Regions from separate parts of the Homo sapiens genome. Here region 2 is linked to region 1. The links come from fine-mapping of genetic effects on gene expression. Tissue or cell type: whole blood. Region 1 holds a variant in brackets; the other region holds the start of a gene. All regions are shown on one strand. Distances are between the middles of the regions.

What was found. PIP is the estimated chance that this variant, and not a neighbour inherited with it, causes the effect.
Region 2: SPX starts here. The variant in region 1 is fine-mapped to the expression of SPX in whole blood (INTERVAL, PIP above 0.99).

The regions. Positions count from the first base shown.
Region 1 is chr12:21,566,789-21,574,788 of GRCh38, forward strand. It overlaps GYS2 (glycogen synthase 2), which reads right to left. Exons shown (of 16, transcript NM_021957.4): 4 at 7,356-7,538; 5 at 2,077-2,221. Among named protein-coding and RNA genes, the nearest start is that of GYS2, 34 kb to the right of the region's middle. The variant G/A (reference allele first, on the strand shown) is at 4,460.
Region 2 is chr12:21,521,600-21,529,728 of GRCh38, forward strand. It overlaps SPX (spexin hormone), which reads left to right and starts at 4,697. Exons shown (of 6, transcript NM_030572.4): 1 at 4,697-4,879; 2 at 5,287-5,367; 3 at 5,536-5,593; 4 at 6,128-6,190; 5 at 7,402-7,485. The coding sequence starts at 4,874.

The DNA.
Region 1 (8,000 bases):
TACTCAACATAAAATCATTTTTGGTACTGAATACAGGCAGTTTGGCAAAAAGCTCATGCTTTGACCACTACTCTGTAGCTATATTCTTAAGAAAACAAAAATTTAAGAAAATAGTATATAGAGAAAGCAGGACCTAGAATAGAATCTTGGAGAATGTCCACTTTGAAAAGTAAAAGAAAGTAGAAAAATGATTAGAGGCACCAGAAAAGATTATACTGGAAAGAAAGTAGAATGTGCAGTGTCATGAAAAATAATGGAAACAGATGTTCACCGCCTTTAAATGCTAGAGAATATAAAGAAAAATAAAAAACATTAGATGACCCTGAATTCGATGATTTTTGGAAACACAATTTTAGGCCAGAGTTGGAGGTCGGAAGCCAGAGTCCCAGGGGCTAATGAGTAAGTGAACCTAGCAATTATGGTTTACTCTTATAAGATATTTGGCAGCAGGAGAAAGGAGGAGATGGTATGATATTTGGCAGGGTAGAAACCTCAAGAGAAATTTTCATTTTAGAATAGGCAAAAACAAAGAAAGTATTTTTGTGAGCTCAGAGAAAGATAACTGTAGACAGGAAAAAGGAAGATCCAAGAGAGAAATGAGCATATTGATGGAATAAACTCCCAAAAGAAGAATGAGAGTAAGAATCCAAGCGAATTCAAGAGAATCCTTGGAAAGAAAAAAGGCTACTATAGGTTCTTAATGCTGCCACTATTCAAATTAGTTGGGTTCTTGTTCTATCTTGTTTTTTTTTTTTTTTTTAACCTAGCACCTTGAAATACCTCTTCTACACATTCTGCTATCTGAAAGAAGGACAACTAGAGACAAGACCACAGAAATTAAGCAAGGAGGATATATTAATTAGGATGATTTCGTTGCAAGTAATATAAACCTACTAATGCTGGCTTAAGTATAATAACAAGGAATTTATTAATAGGATGCCGGAGTGTCTCATGGCAAATATTTAGCTGAGCCTTAGGAATGATTTTTAAAAGTGGTCAAAACTGGCTGGCCGCGGTAGCTCACACATGTAATCCCAGCACTTTGGGAGGCCAAGGCGGGTGGATCACGAGGTCAGGAGTTCAAGACCAGCCTGGCCAAGATAGTGAAACCCCGTCTCTACTAAAAATACAAAAATTAGCTGGGCGTGGTGGCAGGTGCCTGTAATCCCAGCTACTCGAGAGGCTGAGGCAGAGAATTGCTTGAACCCGGGAGGCAGAAGCTGCAGTGAGCTGAGATCACGCCACTGCACTCCAGCCTGGGCAATGGAGCAAGACTCCATCTCAAAAAAAAAAAAGAAAAAGGGGTCGAAATCACTGTGGAGAGCCTCTAGTTCTCTCTCTCAGTCTGTTTTTGCTTCTTATAACAATTCAGTGTAGTTTAATCTTCTTTGCATCCAGTGCAACAAAGTAGAAAAATGAACACTACCAATAGCTTTGAGTTATTGGTAGTGTTTCATTGTATGACAGTGCATTGAGAGACTCGTTTGAATGGGAGCATTCTGATTGGCCCAGCTTATGTCAGATGTCTTCCTTTGGGCCAATCAGCCGTGGCCGGGTGACAGGGCCATGTCTTATGAGCATGAGTTCTTCACATTGCAAGCTCTGGTTGGGTCTGTAGATAGTTCCTGGAAAAATTTCCAAGGAATCTGGGGATAAGTAATATAAAACGTTTCTACCAACACAGCACCAATGAGGCAATATTACAAGATGTAGGACTGGGATAGTCTCACACAAATTTCTGTTTTCTTGGCTTTCATTTTCTCAAAAGACAAGAGTCAACCGAACTTCCTTACACATACCGACTCATTATGACAACCCAGGTCATACCAAGGTTATTTCAAGCATAGCTCATTTATTCAACAAGCACAGATTGAACACTTAGCCATGTTCCAGATATAGCTTTGAGTTGGCTTCCCTGCAAACCTACTGAAATTGAGAATTAAAATACATAAAAAGAGCTGCGTGGTAACTGAATGCAATTTTTCCTCAAACTACTACTTCACGATGGAAAACAAAATCCTCATAGTGTAACATCATTCGGAACTGAAAGATAGGTGATCCAGGGATAATAATTACCAGGCTTTCTCTTCAGCATATGTTCAGCTTCTATTGCTGTTATTTCAGAAACCGTGGTGAACACGTGAGCGCAATGAACGGAAGCTCGCTCCATGCAGTACCGGTGGTAAATCTGCCTTTCCCCAGCCTCTTTGTCAATGTTAAACTGTTAGAAACAAAAATAAAACACACATTTGCTAACAATGGCCCTTCTACACAAGCTAAACAAAATCACACATTTCACCAAGTGGCTTACCTCAAGGCTGTGTAAAAATTTATGACCACAAAAAAGTAATAAAAACTTGAATTAAACCCATTACTACAATATACATAAGGAATTACACTTTAAAAGACATTGTTTACTCCATTTCTCCCTCTAAACTGCAGTTTAACTCCCTAAGTAAATGATGTTTCTACCTTACTGTAATCACATAGAATTCTTGAATTTTTGACATTTTAATTACACTTTTACTTATTCTACATCTTGGAATACTGAGCTAATGCCTTTCTCCAAAGTCTTTTATATATTTTCCCATAAACAATGAAACAAAGTTGACATTAAAGTTGACATCGAAAATAAGAATAATTATTATAATGCTTAATTCACTGAAAGGGAACCTGAAAAAGAGAAAGACAAACGCTTTTCCTTGGTTATAGAACTTCCCCTTTATAATTGCAAAGAGTGTATAGTTAGTCTAGTTAGATATTGTGCTAGATTATGCAATTATCTATGCTTCTGGGTAGCTTAACTTAAAAAAAGTCAAATTCCCAACAATCACTTAAATAACTGGCAACAGTGTGGGCTTTTGCCATTTCACTTAGTTACTGAATGTAGTGTCTCACGCAGCTCCATATGAAACTAGCAGTGTCTAAGAAAAAAAGAATATGTAAAGTTTCTGACATTATGTAAGTAGGGTGCTTTTCATAGTGAAGATTTTTAGTAGCTCTTCAGCACTAGTGTCAGGCACTCCACTACGCACAATAACATATTTAATTCTTATAAACTACTGAGACACATATTTTGCCTTCATTTTATGGAGAAGGAAATTGAACCTTTTAGAGGTCAAGAAACTTGTCGAAGGTCACATTGCTATTAAGAATCTTGGTAGAACCCTAATTTGATCCTTAATCAGCCTGACTGATTAATGAATACAGTCTTGTATTCATCTGTTTTTATATCATTGAGACTTCAACTCTATCAAGAAGTTAGTCCCAATAATTATGGCATCATATAGAGAAAAATACTAAAAAGAGACCCATTAGAGGAATCTCATGATTAGAACAAGAAAACTCCTAGAGCATTCTTTCATGACTGTAATATTTGGAATCATCTCTCTGAAAATGTTTGAATCAGGTTGTATATGACATGCTTGGATCAGCAGAAGTTTTCTTAAAAGCTCTATGTGGCCAGCCTAATTAATGAAACCAAATCTCTCATTTAATCAACTTTTTTGAGCAATTTATGTGTATCTATTAACTTTAAGAAACTTATAAATTAATGGAAAATGGATTAAAAACAGGTAGAAATGAAATGAGTATGTGTCTGAATAAGTTATAGGATCAAAGCAGCACTGATTCACTCTGGCTGAAGGTAGGCAAAATTATCTCATACTACGCAGTAAGCGTAGTCAGTATCAACTCTACAAATGTAAGACTTTCAAGTGCAAAGACGAAGACTTATTCATCTTTCTATCTCCAAATTGGTTGGATGAATAAAATGGCATTTGGACCAGGATATGAAAGTTTAATTCTGGGAAAGTTATTTTTAGCTGAAATGCTAGCTGCCCTAAAGAACAAGTATAGAAAATGCTATGGCATGTGCAGAAAATAGCAGGACATCTGATGTGACTGTAGCACTGGATGTAGAATGTAAGAGACAGAGGCTGGTCGGATACAATAGGGCCAGATCACTGAAATCCCTGAAGATGAGCCTAGGAATTTTGCCTTTGTCCTGTAAACAAGAAAAGCCACTCTGAAAGTGTTTATTTAGAGGTGTGGTAAAGACAGAGCCAGTGTTTAAGAAAAATAACTCTGGAAAGAAGTAAAGAATGTTTTCTATCCCATTGAGTATTTTGTGAATTTCAAATGAGACAACAAATGTCAAATGTTTAGAAAAGTGCCTGGTATATGGAAAGTGCTCAATAAATTTAGCCATTGTTATTATTAATTATTATTATTGTTGTAGAGAATCACATGTCACAGATAAGACAGCATTTAACATTTGGACATTTAGAGATGGGAAGATAGATTTTCTAAATGAGCAGGCTGAGTATGCACAAATACAGAGGCAGGATAGCAAGAGCCTGGAGACCCCGTGAGAGGCCTTGGGGAAGTCGGGTGGGTGTGCATGCTTCTGCCTTTCCCTCCTCCCATGGGGCACACTTATCTTTTAGGTCTGTAGTAC[G/A]CGTGGCCACTCCTGTGGCTTTACAGAAACCTTATCCGTTTACACATGTTGTCCATTCTTCCACATATTTATGATTATATCTTAAAATCTCTGTACAATAATTCCAACACAGGACATATCTGGACCTGGTCTTTCTGACAATGGGTTTTTACTTTCTTGCATTTTAATATATCTCATAGTTTTTTATTGAATTCTGGATAATGTGTATAGAAAAACAAAAAATGGGTAAAGTACATATTAATCAATAAAACACAGTCCAGTGACACATGTGGATAACCCTGTAATTGAAGTTGACTAGCTCAAAGCTTGATCAGAAGAAAGAGTTTAAATCCACCAAATAATTGTCCATGGCTTCCTTCCCCATTTTCCAATCCCAAACGGCACTGTCCTCAGATTTCCATCTAGGAAATTCTGCTACAATTAAGAAAAAAAAGGCCGGGAGTGGTGGCTCACGCCTGTAATCCCAGCACTTTGGGAGGCTGAGGCGGGCGGATGACGAGCTCAGGAGATCGAGGCGATCCTGGCCAATATGGTGAAAACTCGTCTCTACTAAAAATACAAAAAATTAGCTGGCTGTGGTTGTGCGTGCCTGTAGTCCCACCTACTCAGGAGGCTGAGGCAGGGGAATCGCTTGAACCCGGGAGGTGGAGGTTGCAGTGAGCCGAGATCACGCTACGGCACTCTAGCCTGGCGACAGAGCAAGACTCCGCGTCAAAAACAAAAACAAACAAACAACATAAAATGGGAGGGGGGGTGGGGCGGGGGGCAAAACAAGAAAACTAAAGGCTTTAGAGGAAAAAAAAGAATTTATTATGTAGTCATTAGAGTCGAGAGGATAATTGATCAATGATTGGACTTTAAAAAATGAATTTGGAGACATATTCTCAGAAATTTCATACGCTGGCTGAAAATGGTTAAAATCTTATTTTAAATAATGAATTTTACTAAAAACTTAAACCAGCGTTAGAGTTTTTGTAATTGGCTACTAACAAAAATTGTTTTCAGTTAGCAGTAATTTGAGTAAAATCGTTCTAATCTTTCTGATTTTACAAAAGTTTAATTATCTTATTCTTGTTCTCATATTTGCCCTATTTTCATTTGTCTGAGTCAGAATTTACTGAAGCTGATCCTGGTTCCTGCATCAAAGATTAAACTATGACTTCTTCCTTATACTGAAATTTTAAAAACCTTTCATGTATATAATTTGGTATTCTTATGTGTCACCCAAATTCTAAATTTAGTGTGAGCATGGGGGCTTCTGCTGTGTAAAATGACTATGAATTTAACCCAAAAGCTAGTTCTTGACTGCTTGTTGTCTACTAGTCATTTTGCTAGATAGAACATTTTACTAGAAAGATGGGCAGGGATCTGACTAAACTTAAGTATCTCAACCAGTGAAGGGCTTTAAACTAGAGAGATGTGTGATTATATCTAAAGACAGTATGAAAAATACTGCCCTTTCATCAAAAGGGTAAAATTGTAATATATAACTATATACTATAATGCATTTCTTCCTTAAAACCAAAGAAAAATATCCTATGTATATTATTAGTAGCTTTTAAAATTAATTATTACTATACAAGATTCAAGAATTCTGAAGTGAAATATTCAATCTGCCACTCTAATATTTTCTCCTTCACTGAAGTCAAAGTGCACTCCTCTCCAGGAAGCATGGTTGTTGAGCTTACCAGCTTATCACAGATCACTGGTTTGCCCTTATTAGTCCACCATTACTATATACCGCTAAGAACCTCCCAGATCCCCAGGCTTTCTGAATTCCTTGGTGATTTTATTTTAAATGTACAGCTTGTGTTTCTAGTTTGACCTTTAAATTAGGCTGACCTTTTTATAGGGAAGGGCTCATCAGGACCACTCATTGCTTTACAGATGTTAAAGTTTTTCAGAAAGAACGTTCTTGCGCTCTAAGTGTCTTTGAGACAGTAGTATAACTTTTCAGTGGCATTATTTGAGTATTATTTGTGTATTACACACACATACACATTCTATTTTATAGAATCCTAGAACTCTTTAAGCTGGGAAATTTTTAAAAATCAACTTTCTAACTTCCTAATTTTCCTGATAGCAAAACTGAACCCTAGAGTACTAAATAGATTTGATTGTTAATATAGACACCAAATCTGCAAAACCTCTGAATTTATACTACTCAAACATTTTGTTAATATTATTAACATGATGATATAAAATATATACTTTCATTAATCTAAATTGACATGAAAAATAGAAGAAATAAATCAAAACTGAATGACTTTGGCAGGTCATAGACTCAGGTAACCTGCTAAGATGAGCAAAAATAACTTCTTGTTCACCAAGGACCCATATCCCTGTTTGCAATAACTTCTGTTTTACTTGATCCCACAAAAATGCCCCCTGTGCATTGCAAAGTTACAGGGAAAACTGAACCTATCAACCTATAATGTGGCTTTTAATCAATTGTTTACTTGGAGGATAGAAGAAATAGAGGAAGTAAGTCTCATAGTGCAAGTTTGTATGTCTCAAATCTCAATTATCTACCTGCCACTCAGAGCTGCATGTGGATCCAGGGTGTTCACAGCGCTTCCATAGCCTTAGGCTAGAACAAGGGCCCAACCTTGCACCTACACCATGTCTTTACTCCTACCATATCCCTCTGGAACTATTGTTCCAAAGTGGGACAGAAATCAGGCCTCTCACCTCTATACTCTAGTGTACTCTGAACAAAGTTGAACTATATGAGCTGTCTTTCAACCCAAGGGAAGCTTTGTCATGAATATTGATTAGCTAAAAGGGCATTTCTGCCATCTGGTTGGCAGATGAAATGTACAGATCAATACTTATCTTTCAGCTTCAGCAATCTGAAAGAAGGGTGAGTAAGAGGGAGGGAGGAAGGAATATTTACCTTATCAAGATGGTTGTAGAAATCAATATTTGCTGCACAGAGATACCTCCCAAGTAGTGTAGCGTGGGTTGTAAATATTGTGGCAATAGGAAGTTTCCTGGCTCGAGAAAGGATCAGTCCAATTCCAGCCTGCCATTCATGGAATTGGGCAACGACATATTTACCATCTGCATGATCTGTCACCTACATTAGGAAAAAAAAAGCATTCAGAAAAGTTGTTGATGAAGCTTGATTGTGCTCATGGTCCACATCATAAGTGGAGTTATGGTGTCTATAAATTATTTTGCAACTTAAAGGAGTCGAAACATAAAGCATGAATATTTAGCAAGGATAATACAGGATTCAGTGGCATGTTCATTAACCCCATATATTTTTAGGTCTTAATCCTCCCTTTCAGTGATGGAGCAGATTTTTTATATCCACAGAAGAATAAATACTAATATTAATAACAGGTAATGAATATTAATAAATAAATGGAATAAATGCAAAGTAGGCACTCAAAAAATATTTATTTAAGAATAAATAAATTCTTAAAGATATCACTGAACAGCTGAATCAATTGGGACCACTTACTTATAAGCTTATTTTTAAAAAACTACTTAAATTTTTTTTAATTGACTAGACTTGTGTTTATTTATAGTATAT
Region 2 (8,129 bases), 45 kb before region 1:
GTCATCAAAAAGTAATTTAGGCATTTTGTACCATAATAGCCATATTGTCCAGATAACCTTATCCAAGATAGCAGCTGTTTTCCTTGTGAACACAATAATCACTGACCTTGAAAGAATGTCATTTAAACAGTGACAGGTGATCACTGGTTAAATAGGTTCTGGGCACTCTACAGTCGACTACAAGAATCCAGGTAACAGTGATGAATTCAAAACAGTCTTCATTGAATGTGCCTTTAAAAAAGGCTTAAAAGACCATTTGTTCAACATCTACTGCTTGCTCATACTGTCAGGAGAATAAAATTCAAGGGCTTTACCTATCTTGGATTTTTGTTGTTGTGTGTTTTGTTTTGTTTTATACCAAATATTGTAACTTAACCCATGTCTTGTTTTGGACCTGTAAAAACCCTAAAAGCTTTGTGATTTAACAAAAACATTCTATTGGGGTTCAGTGCCCTTTGGAAATCCTTTTAGAAGTAACACATTCTAGCATGTTACTCTTGATAAGACTGCAATATTGATAATATGTCAAAACCATTCCCTTCTTTTGTGCACATTAAACTGAAAATGGCAGCTTTGACGTAAGACATCTGCTTGTGAATTCATTAGCTAAACTATTATCAGCAAAGCACATTTATTTATTCTTAAAATTGTAAGTTCAAAGCACATTTTATTGGTGATTCATTTTCCTGCTCCTCTTCCCAAAACCTTTGTGTTTTGGGAACAAAAAGGCATTTGACTTATTTTTCAGGTAACCTAGTAATCAGGTTTCATGTGTGACTATTTAAAATATAAACACAGCATATTTCACTTCTTTTATCGCTCTTTTTTGAAGGAAATTGCTACAATCCTTAGAAATGAAAATCCTAAAATCTCACATTTGAAGCATTATTAAAATAGCATCCAGATAACCTTTTAGTCAGTTTTTATCTTTCTCCTCTCCTACGACAGTAGAAATAGAACATTACACTAATGCCTCTAGTTTTTTCCTGCTTTGCTGTTTTCCTTGAAGACAGTAAATAGTTCTCAAGTTTCTACTCACATACTACTTTCTATATTCCATTCTCATTTACTAACCAAACCTCAGTTTTCCTGTCTGCATATCAGTGTCAAGTCTAAATATCAGTGCCCAAACTCCAATCTCTTTTCCAAGTATTTGCAGGTAGATAGCATGAGCCTTTTAAACTTCAATCCCAAATGAAACTTACTGGTTCTCTCCTCAGAGTCCCTGCTATTTCTGTCTAGCCATTCTTCCAGCCACACAAACTCTGAGGTTTAGTTTTCGTCACTTCTTATACCCCTAAATCTTTGTTACTCAAAATGTCCAAGGGTCAATAGCATCTATCACCATCACCTGGGAGTCTATTAGAAATGCAGAATTTCAGGCCCCACTCCAGGTATACTGAATCAGAATCTGCATTTTAACAAATTCTCAGGTGATTCCCATGCACATTAATACCTGAAAACCACTGCCCTAACTGAGAAGGAACTGCTATGACCTAAATGTTTGTGTCCTACCAAAATTCATATGCTAAAATCCTAAACCTCAATATGATGGTAGGGCCTTTGGGACATGACTAGGTCATAAGGGTGGAGCCCTCATAAATGGGATTAATGTCCTTATAAAAGCATTCCAAAGAGTTTGTTTTCCCCTCCCACCCATGTAAGAACACAGCAGAGAAGACAACAGTCTGCAACCCAGAAAAGGGCCCTCACCAGAACCCAACCATGCTGACTGGACTTTGATCTTGGACTTCCCAGCTTTCAGAGTTGAGTAAGGAATTTCCATTGAGTAAGCTACCCAGTTTGTTGTATTTTGCTATAGCAGCTTGAATGGACTAAGAGAGGGACCATCTCTTTCTTTCATGGTAACTTAGTATGTGGTGGATACTCAGGTCCTTGTTCAATATCTGCCTATGTATATAGATCTTTTAACTGAATATTGATATACTTGGAATCCTATCCCTCTTGCCTTCTAAGAATTTCCTTTTGCTGTTATATTCCCTTTCTTCTACATCATGAATTTCTCCTTCCCTACTGATCATCCCCATCAATATACATGTCTTACAAATTGTTTCTTAGTTGTCACATCAACAGAAACCAATAAACATGGCTGATTTGGGCAAAACAAAGATTTTATTAAAAGGACACTGCAGCTGGCATCACCACTGCTACAGCACTGGATGCTGGAACTTGCCACTAGCACCGTAGCTAAGACTACTCCAGAAACTCAATCTTACTACAACCCCTGCTTCACCCGAGCACTTCTTCCATCCTGGCATGAGATTCCCCATCTAAGCATGCTCATCTGATTGGTGAAGCCCGTGTCATATGCCCACATTCTCCCTGATAGGGAGGCTAGAAAACTGACTATCTGGCATTTTCAGTTTGTACAATAGAAGAAACACTCTGCCTCCCAAAAAGATTCATAATTTCATAATTCATAATTCAGGGAATTTTAGGAATTTCCTAGAAATGAAAGGTTTCCCAAAAAGTATAACAAATCTTCTATCTTATCTTTTAAAAAAAAAAAAAAGATTTCACAGGCCAAGCATGCCTATAATCCCAGAGGTTTGGGAGGCTGACATGGGAGGACCAGTTGAGGACAGGAGTTTCAGCCCAGCCTGAACAACATAGTGAGACCCTGTCTTTAAAATAACAATAACAATAATAATAACAGTAAAAAAAATTCTCATTTTTTCCTTTCCCTTCTTTTGTGACATCTGTAAAAGAGATTGTTTATTCTTGGCTTTAATTTATCATATCATATTCACTATTCAACCAACTCCAATCTTGCTTCTATCCTCAAAACCATCATATTCCAAATCCAGTGGATGTTTCTTGGAGCTAATGTTGCTTGACCTCCCAATACTACTGGATCTTCACTTGGCTTCCATGATATCAGGGTCCCCTGGAATTTCTCCTTTCTTTCTGACTCTACCTCAACCTCCTTTTCTGGCTCTTCCTCTGCTCATTCTCTATGCGTTTGTTTTCATAGCTCTGTCCCTGCCACTCTTCTTTAGCCCTATTCACTCCCTAAGTGTTGTGTTTAATCTCATCCCTTTACTGGTTGTAAAATTCTTAGAATTCTTAAAATTCTTAAAGCTAATCATTTCTGCCCCCCACCAAAAAGAAAATCTGTAGGCTGGTGACCTCTTGGCTGACCTCTATCAAGTTTTGCATTTCTAACCTTCTATTTTGTACTTGTACTTGGATATTTTTAATATACATTTTAATTTTAATATGCCTATATGGCAAGTGTTAATTTCCCTCTCATAACTTGCTTCTTAAGAAGTTTCTCTAATTTCAGTAAATTACTTCATAATTTACCCACAGTTTTATCCATAAACCTAAGAATCATCCTTGATTTATTTTTCTCACACTTTCATATCCCTTTTATATACAAGTTCTATATTTTCTACCTCCACAACATGTATTCCAAATTCATTTACAGCTCTTCTTTCCCTGTGTGTACCATCCCAGTGTAAGCCATCATCATCTATTGCTTATAATCGTATTTCCACATCAACTGGCCCATTTCTTCTTCTCCAATCTCATTTCAAAGCACCTCCCCCGTTCACCCACACAACGCTGCCTCCATTGGCCTCTTTCCTAGTCCCCAAGCAAGTCATGCTCTTTGCTGTCCACAGATTTTGCTTTTCTTTCTTCTATTGAGAATGCCTGGAATACTAATTCCTGCCCAGCTTCTCCCATTACTTCACCTTATCCTTCAAGACTACCCTCTGTTTTTAACCTTCCCTAAAGTAGCCCACCACTTATCCTATCACATCACCTTGCTTACTTTTACTTAACAATTTAAAACATTCTGTAGTTACAGTAGTCCCTGCTTATCCACGGTTTCACTTTCCATGGTTTCAGTTACCCATGGTCAACTACAGTCTGAAAATATTAAATGGGAAATTCCAGAATTAATAAGTTTAAATTGTGAGCTTTAAATCTGAGTAGGGTGTTGAAATCTCTCACTGTCCAGCTCCAGCCCACCCAAGACATGAACCATCTTTTTGTCCAGCATGTCCATATGTAAACACCACTCTCCCATTAATCAGTTAGTAACCATCTTGGTGAACAGATAAAAAAAAATAGTATAATAAGGCATATACGTATCAGTGGTTTCAGGCATCCACTGTGGGTCTTGAAACATGCTCCTCCACCCCACACACACCTACGATTAAGGGGTAACTACTGTGTCTTATTTATCTATTCATCAGTTTACTGTGTACCTTAACTAGTAGGTAACTTAGATCAAAGCAGAGACCATGTCTTTTCAGTGCATGGCTGTGTCCCTTGAAATACAAGGATTGTGTGTCTCATAGGCACTCAATAAATATTTGCTAAACAACAGAATGAATTGATAATTAAGTGAATGACTGATGTCAAATTCCATTGAGATTCCCAAACCTTTTCATACATCTTTAGCCATCAGTGATAGACTGATGGCTAGTTACCCAAGAAAAGTTTTCTGATTTATTCTTTTACTTTTGATTCTGCCTTGGACTATTGATTGTTTTCATTAATAATAATAATAACATGTTACTTTGGGCAGCTAGTAGGAAAAGCAAGGCCAATGATGCTGACACATTCTGAAGGCCTCCTGGGTGATGCAATCAGTATTTAAACAAATAATTTCTGCCCATCAATCATTCCTCTACTTCCTGCAATGAAGCTCCCTGGAGGAGTCATCAGATTCTCAATCTTGCTTGAAGACTGACAAGATGTCCCTGTGGACTCCCAAACTCTACTCCAGATGGGGAGGTGCCCTTAACACCAAGATTTTAAAAGCTCCAATTTCAGAGCAAGAGTCGAAAACTCACAGATAAAGTTATAGTTATTTCAGGGTTCTGAAAAGACGCAGAACATGAAGGTAAGTAAAGGCTTTATTAACTTGAGACTTCTTAGCTATTTTTTAAAACGTTTTATAGCATTTTACCTATTTCATGTTTAATAAGGATTTTAGAGTTTAAAGGATATTTGAACGATACGCCTTTAGAATAACAGAATCATTTGATTTTACTAAGAAAAAAATTCACGTATTTACTTATTCTTCATTTGGGTGAAGTAATACAAATAATATGTTTCTAAATACGTTTTTTCAAGTGGACTCTTTGTGAATTAACTAGAAGGTAGAAGGGAAACACCTCCAGAAAACTGAGTATTAAAACAGAATATTGCGAGAAGTAAGGGGGTTTATAATTGTCCAGGCGTCAAGGAAGGAAGCAGAAGATCCTATTGGCACAGAAATGACCCTTTCTGGTTGATCGCTTCATATAGGGACTCAGAAGTCTGGCAGCAACAACCTTGGCTCTTTTCCTGGTGTTTGTTTTCCTGGGAAACTCCAGCTGCGCTCCGCAGGTAATCAAATGCAAAATAAAAAATTTTAAAACAATGCGCACTGTGTGTCCACTCTGCTCTTTCTTTCTTCCTTCTTGTTTTATTCTCTTCTTTTTCCTTTATTTTGCTGTAATAGAGGACTGAGCTGCAATGTTTTATTAACTGCTCTTCCCTTCCCCCGGGCTATAGAGACTGTTGGAGAGAAGGAACTGGACTCCTCAAGCTATGCTCTACCTGAAAGGGGCACGTAAGTTCCAAATATTTCGCTCTTCCTACAATAATGGAAGACCCCTAGGAGTCAGGAACAGATAGATGGAGAGTTATGGAGAGAGAATAATGTCGAGTTTATTCCCTTAAATCATCGAGGCCATCAAAGAGACCGGTAGGTGAGGGAGGGGTGGGAGAGGGGAAGAGTCCCTGATTATTGGAAATCCTCCATCCTTATTAGAAATTCTCCATCCAAAACTGGAGGGTTGCTTCTCTTGGTCCAAATGGGGACTCGGGTTGCCTGGGAAATATCTCAGTAACCCGACCTCCGCTCCAAAGCGCCCTTGCGGCGTCCGGTCAGGCGCGGGGCTTTCCTCCAGAGCTCCAGGGCCCCTGGCTCAGCCCGGGGTTGCGCTGGGAGCGCTGGAAACTCGGCAGCCCCGCGCGACCCTATCCTGGAGCAACCTGCCCCCTCCCCACGCCCGGGGACTGCGCTGTGCCGGGAGGAGCTGAGGTTTAAGCCCGGGTTGTCCCGGGCCAGGCTGTCGCTGAGCCCCAGGTCTCGTTTTTGCAGAGGGTCGCCGCTTCATCTCCGACCAGAGCCGGAGAAAGGACCTCTCCGACCGGCCACTGCCGGGTGAGTGACCAAGGGTGCAAGGGCGCTAGTCCTGCGCTTTTGGAATAGGATGGGGCGGGCAGGGCTTGCTCCGCGCTGGTGCCGAAAGAAAGCGTCTCCTCACCGGAAAGACGCGGCTCTGAGGCGCCCTCAGATACAGTCCGCCCGAGGGCAGCCCGGGTTGGCAGCAGCAGCAGCTGGATGCCGAGCGCCGGAGCTGGGAGCTCGCGCGTCCAGCCCCGCGCCAATGGTGGCAAGGGCGGCCCAGGCTGGCGCTGCGGCTCCCCAAGCCTTATTGGCTTGCGGCTGTTCAGCCAGCCCTCTGGCTGCCAGGGTGTGCAGAGGTCCCCAGGGAGTTAGGACCTGAGGTGCAGCTCAGAGGGGTAAGGCGAGATAGGAAGAACTATGCAAATGCTTCTAGAAATGTATCTGCGCGTTTGTGCAGGAACTTTACTCAGCCTCCTCTTAAACGCTGTTATTATTAAAATAAGAACTTACCTAGGAACTTCAAATGTATGCTTTTGTTTGACTAGAAAGAACTATCAAAGGTTCAAAATCAAAAGAGTAACATGCGGGCAGTTAAGGATGGGACCGGGGACTGTTCTTTTTCATGATAAACCTTTCCATCGTATTGTATTAACAAATAACAATACAATTTGATGAAATTGTAAAGATTGAAATGCTAAAATTAAAAAGTATACTTACTTGGAAAAATACCAAACACTGTTGAACACATAGTAGGTGCTTAAATTTTTGTTTAGGCTCTTCAAACATGCTGTGTAATTGAGCTTATTTATTTTATGAGGTTAAGATTTGTTTCTCAACTTCAGTTGCCCCAAATTAGAAATCATGTTTTGTGCTGAATCAGAACAATTTGTCTTTTTTCAACTTAGATTTGAAATAACTTTGAGTTCTTAGCAGATACTCCTTCAGTCAAATAATTACCTTATATTTGGCCGCAAAGGTTAAATTATTATCTAAAATTCTCTTTGGCATATAGTTTAACATTCTCTTCCATACCCTGTTTGTAAACTTGACATAACCAATTGTAAGTCATTTCCAAGGCAATTGTGACATGTTAAAAAATTAGTCTTCTGTGTAAGTAGTCCTTTGTTGAGGGGTCAAAATCTATTTCATAGAGGTTTTTCTAGTATTGCTGCATGTTAGAATAGGACTTATCTACATCAATATATAAATGCTAAGAGAATCTGTATACATTTTTGTTTCTGCAGAAAGACGAAGCCCAAATCCCCAACTACTAACTATTCCGGAGGCAGCAACCATCTTACTGGCGTCCCTTCAGAAATCACCAGAAGGTACTAGCATAGTGGCCTCTTTCACCTGCATAACAGAACAGCTTTGCTTACTTTCGGGATTCTGTGTTGAGTGCAACACCCCTCCCCCAGAATTTCTTGGCCTTAGGCCCAGAAATTCTAATTCTGTACTGCTTGAGTGAGGCCCAAGAATCTCTGTCCTTAAGAAGTTCTTCCACATTATTCTGATGATTGGTCAGGTTTGAAAACAGGAACTTCAGAGCCCGTTAATAAAGGTTGAAATCATGAGAATGGAGATACCTTCTAGGGCTTAGATATAGTGGGAAAAGGGAAGACAATAAAACACCCAAAAATCAAGGGAAATGGGGGGAAATAGTACCAGTGAAGGGACATTAAAAGGAGCAAGCAGAAAGGTAAGAGGAAAATCAGAATAAGAGAGTATCCCAGAATTCATTCAGTAGCTGATGCTACTGATCCCGCTCCTCTTGAAACTTTCCAGGGATGGAAACTATCAGAATGGTTACTATAGCAGAATGGTTAGTAAGAATACAGAACTCAGGGGACATTAAACAGTGTGTCACAGGACTTCCCCCCACCTCCTGCCCAGTGACACAGCTTGCTGCTGCTATTCCATATCTGAAACTTTGTTTACAGAATGTGATACAAGAAAGTAAACTGCAAAGTTA